Linked DNA regions of Homo sapiens: region 2 is linked to region 1. A link means that fine-mapping ties the variant in region 1 to the expression of a gene that starts in the linked region. Tissue or cell type: whole blood. Region 1 holds a variant in brackets; the other region holds the start of a gene. All regions are shown on one strand. Distances are between the middles of the regions.

The links. PIP is the estimated chance that this variant, and not a neighbour inherited with it, causes the effect.
Region 2: GGTA1 starts here. The variant in region 1 is fine-mapped to the expression of GGTA1 in whole blood (TOPMed, PIP above 0.99).

Annotation. Positions count from the first base shown.
Region 1 is chr9:121,148,933-121,151,614 of GRCh38, reverse strand. CNTRL (centriolin) reads right to left here. Exons shown (of 44, transcript NM_007018.6): 25 at 1,132-1,445. Among named protein-coding and RNA genes, the nearest start is that of RAB14, 52 kb to the left of the region's middle. The variant A/C (reference allele first, on the strand shown) is at 1,351.
Region 2 is chr9:121,498,149-121,500,830 of GRCh38, reverse strand. GGTA1 (glycoprotein alpha-galactosyltransferase 1 (inactive)) reads left to right here and starts at 987. Exons shown (of 6, transcript NM_001382585.1): 1 at 987-1,181. RefSeq lists silencers at 938-1,037, 2,387-2,681.

The DNA.
Region 1 (2,682 bases):
TTCGAGACCAGCCTGGCCAACATGGTGAAACCCCCATCTATACTAAAAATATAAAAATTAGCCAGGCGTGGTGGCGTATGCCTCTAATCCCAGCTACTTGGGAGGCTGAGGCAGGAGAATTGCCTGAACCCGGGAGGCGGAGGTTGCAGTGAGCCAAGATCACGCCACCGCACTCCAGCCTGGGCGAAAGAGAACAAGTCCGTCTCAAAAAAAAAAAAAAAAAAAAAGAAGAAGAAAAAAGAAAAAGGAAGTAATCTAGTAATTAGGAAATAATTATTTCTTAGAATCTAGCCTAAGAGATACAGTAAGAATTTACAGTCAGCTACAGTACCTACAAATATAGAAATGTTGTACAGTCATTAAAATATTGTTTAAAGACATTTGTAAAACCATGGACAAATGCTTATAACATTAAGTAGGAAAAACAGAATACAAAATATTGTGTACAATAAAATATAAACTATGAAAATAATAAATAAATCCCACCACCTAGAGATAATCCCCAAAACCTTATCCCCACCGAAATATAAACTATGAAAATAAATAATAAATAAATCCTACCTAGAGATAATCCCCACCAAAACCTTACTGTATGCTGTCCATACCTGTGTGCATACACGTGCACATACATGTGTATACACTCATATTATACATATATGTATGTGTACAAGTACAGGCACTAGTAAGTGAATATATACATACACATTAATATAACACTTGTCAATAGAAAAATACATAAGCTTTGTAAAAACGGTAAATTTCTGGACTGAAAACATTTGTTATTAAATGGCTAACCCAGGTTTGTAGACTGGCCTGAGACCCTAACTCCTGTACATGGTATTTTTGTTTTTTTGGTTTTTGTTTTTTGCTGTTACCGGGGCTGGCCTTGAATTCCTAGGCTCAAGCAATCCTCTTGTCTCAGTCTCCTGAGTAGCTCGGATTATAGGCACATGCCACTGCTTTTATAAGAGAATTTTAATAAGAGAATGCTTGCACAGTTCTAAACATCAGCCTTACAAACACACTTTGCCATATAATCCAGTCATAAATAGGTCAACTCATTAAGTATATAACCTTATCAGTCACCCATGGAAGCAGTGTGGAAAGAGAGTTGTATGTCTTTCCACTTACTAAGTTATGGTGTTCAGGGACGTTGCAATGCAGCACACCCATAGGGATGAAGGGGATGGAGAAGTTGGGGGGTGGAGGCCCATACACCATGGGGGCCCCAGCAGGAGGTGGGCCATAAACAACAGTGCCAGGGGTGAGAGGTCGGCTATTGTTTGGCAAGGGAGGAGGTGGTGCATACAGGGCCATGCCCTGGGGTACAGGAGAACCATCAGGAAGCAC[A/C]GTATACATCATGTATCCAGGAGGAGGCACAAATGGGGGTTCTTCTTGGTCATCCAGCTCACTCTCTTCCTGACTATCTCCTCCACTGTCTGCATCTTCAAAGAAATAAACAGAAGAGTTTATTCAACAAAAGAGTGTTTTACCCCCATGGTTTACCAGGTAAACAAATTTAGTAGAGAACAGCAGCATTTAAGCCAAGATACTGCAGATGTGAGAATAAAACTCTGAAAAAAAGGTCAAAACTATTTTTGAAAAGCAGCTCAAAACATGGATTCAAAGTATTTTCTATGGCTGATACTTGAGTTTTTCTTATGTTTATCTGTTGGTTTGTTTCTGCATTTGCTAATTTATTCATTAATTTATTAAGTGACCATCTGGGTATCTAATTCATGCTACATACAAGATCTTACAGCACTCAGTGTTTACCACTGTCATGACATGTAACACTCTCCAACGTGATAGCTTACTAACTTATCTGCCCTAAAACCAGGAAATATGTTTGCTGATCACTGACAACAGAGAACCTAGCACACAGCAGGCAGTCAATAAGCACTTCCTGGACACATACGGTGGCTCACGCCTGTAATCCCAGCACTTTGGGAGGCCGAGGCAGGCAGATCACTTGAGGTCAGGAGTTCGAGACCAGCCTGTCTAATATGGTGAAACCCTCATCTCTACTAAAAATATAAAAATTAGCCAGGCATGGTGGTGCACGCCTGTAATCCCAGCTACTCGGGAGGCTGAAACAGGAGAGAGAATTGCTTGATTCCAGGAGGCGGAGGTTGCAGTAAGCCAAGATTGTGCCACTGCACTCTAGCCTGGGTGACAGAGCGAGACTCCCTCTCAAAAAAAAAAACAAAAAACAAAAAAAAGTTTCTGAATGAACAAATTCTCAGAAGGTAGTATTCACATTTTACAGATTAACAGTTTCACAGCAGCTAAATAATTAGCCTAAGACCACACAGCTAATAAGTGAAAAAGATTTACTCAGGTCTGACTCTTCCTCTGGAGCTTTGGAAGACAGACCCGTAACACTTCATTTTAGGAGGATGAGATTAATGCCGTGATGCAAGGACACAAGACACCATGCTCCAGTACAGTCAAAGAGGCTGCTTAGTCAGCCTGGGTGAAGCAGGGTGGAAGAAGGCTCCATTTAGGAGCATTGTTTGAGGACCTAGGTCTCACTGAAGGATGAGTAGGCATCACCATGGGAAGGGAAGGAGGAAGGACATTCCAGACAGGGTTTAAAACAACGACAAGAGGTCGCTGGCCAAGACCAGATCACAGAAGACCTCATGGAGCTAGCTAAGGAGTCTGGATTGTGTCTTAGGG
Region 2 (2,682 bases), 350 kb before region 1:
CTCCCGAGTAGCTGGGATTACAGGTGCACGCCACCAGGCCTGGGGAATTTTTCTATATTCTGTAGAGACGGGGTTTCGCCACGTTGCCCAAGCTGGTCTGGAAATCCTGAGCTCAAGCAATCCGCCCACCTCGGCCTCCCAAAGTGCTGGGATTACAGGCGTGAGCCACCGCGCCCGGCCGAATTATTTAAGAAGCGAATTTCTTAGTCTATGAAAATGACGTTCAACGGCAAATGGCAAAATGAAGTTCTGACTTTTCCACCTGTAAAGTAGATTGATATGAGCGGGAGTGAGAAGACCTTGTCGCTATCAGTATAAGACAAGAGAACTGAGGGCAGCCAGTTGTGGCCACAGCAACTCTCTGAGTGAATTGCTGCCACACTGGGCACAGAAGCGCACACTCTGAAATCGAATGTTTGGATTCCTTTCTACATAATTCTACTAAAGAGTTATTCCACAGCCTAGGGGCTGCCTTAGAGCCCCGTTTGAGACACTCTGGGCTCACAGATCATGAAGTCAGTGCGCAAACGCGGGCAGACCCTGAACCAGGTGCCCAACGCCCAGCCCTCACTTCCAGAGCTCAGGACTCTCGCAAGAGCGACTCCAGCCCCGGCCTGCCGCTGTCTACATTCGCGCTCTTCCTTCCTCGGGAAACAAACGGTGGATCAGATCTCCAAGGCTCTGAGTTTCCCAGAGTTTGGCCGTGCGCCAGCGCAGCGCAGCCCCTCCCAGCAGCACAGCACAGACCCCACCCCATCCTCCAACGCCCGGGGTTCCTGCTCTATCACCTACACCACCACCACCACGTGCAGGCCCGAGAAGGCAAAAGAGGCCCAGCCACTCTCACCGGGGATTTTATCCGCCTCCCCGGCACACACACACTCTCACTCACGCACTCGCTCGCCGGCCTTCCAGCTGTCTGTGTCCGGGGCGGGGACCGGCTTGGCGCAGCCCGCTGTCAGCGCTCGCCGGCTCCTCGCGCCCCTACCCGCTGCGCTCTGCCCAGAGCAGAAGCCCGGCCGGCCGGCCCACGGGCGGGAGGACGCGCCTCCGCTCGGGCGGAGGCGGCGCGGTGGCTGATCAGAGCGCGTAGGGCTTCGCCGGGGCCGGGAGCTGGGCGCGGTCCTGCTCAGCCCAGCTCACCGCGCGCCGGCCCTCGGCGCCCTGGTTCTGCGGATCAGGTGGGTCCCGCGGGGAGCCGCCCAGGTCCCCGGAGGCCACGAGCAGGACACGGACGGGGGGCTCCGCGCTTGGGAGAGGGTGGTGAGGGAGTGGAGGCGGGCCGCTGCTCCGGCGCTGCCCGGTGTCTGCCCTGCCTGTGTCCCTGCTTTTGTTCTTGTCGCTACCTCGGTGCCAAATCGGACCCAGTTTCTGTCCCTCTGTCCCCATCCTGTGGCCGTCCCTCCCTCTGTCCAGCCTTCCAAGACTGGAGCCTGAAGAGCTGCAAGCTGAGGTTCCCCCACGGGTCCGCGGGGTTGGGGTGGGGGAAGAGAGGGGAGACGCAGGGGACACAGGATGCGACCAAGTAAGTCGCAGTGAGTGAGGGGTCTGTCCTTGCCTGTGGGGCAGGACAGAGGAATGGCTCTTGCCCAGGACAAGATAGGAAGGGCGCGCCTCTGGGAAGGGGAATCTGGGAGTGGGGGGATAAAGTGAGGGTCGCAGGAACCCCAAGGAGGAAGGGAATAGAGAGGGAGATGTCAGAGAGCTTCGGAGAGCCGAGGACTCAGTCAGACGCCCAGCATGGGGAAAGTTTCCGACACTAACTTTGGCATCCGGGGTGCCTGCAGCACTGGGGCGATGGGAGGCGGGAGTTTCCTCCAACTCTTCAAACCTTGCTCCTACTCGAAAAGGACACCACCCCGCGTTTGGAAATGGCAGGAAAACGGCTAAACACAATGATTGCACAAACTCTTGAAGAAAGTAAAAAAAAAAAAAACAGTAAAAAGAAGAAGAAAAAAATGTCAGCGCGCAAAGAGCCAGAGAAGCAGAGGGATTTGAGATTCCTCGATCTTCCCGCTGTGGCGGCCGGGAGGGACTGGGAGGCGCGGAGGGTGTGAGAGCCGCTCCTCCGGCAGGAAGGAACCGAGACCCGAGGCAGGTGTTTTGAGGCTTTGCTCTTCCTTTGCACTCCTTCGGGCTCCTGAGCAGGCCGGGCTGCCTCCTTCCTTTACCTGGAAACAGGCGTGTCTGAGGAAGCAGGAGATGTAGGGTGCAGCCCTGGCCTGCCGCTTGCTGCCAGTAAGGAACCACCTTCCCAGACAGAGCCTCAGTTTCCCCGATTGTGAAATAAGGATACTACTGGAGACCTTCCTTCCAGTCTCTGAGTAAGGAAATGCAAGTGCATGGCGAAGGAGGGCTCTGGGAGTGGGGGGTGTGGAGGACAGGGTTATTCTGCTGCATTTCTGTGCTTCTTTGACTACATCAGGCACTTTCTACCTCTTTCGGAGTTACATCTGGGTGAATTTTGCCTCCTCTACCAGATGGGGGCAGCATGTGGATCTAAGTTATCTCATTTACATGTAACAGGTGCTCAATGACTGAATAAGGCAGAGCTGAACGAGTCCCTAGGGATTGCCCAGTCCAGAAGTTTCAACTCTGTCCTGTAAGGCCCGGCATCCTGCCTCAAGGGCCACCATGGTAGGGGAGGGGAACCTAGAGGACAGGGCTCTGGCCCCTTCCCTA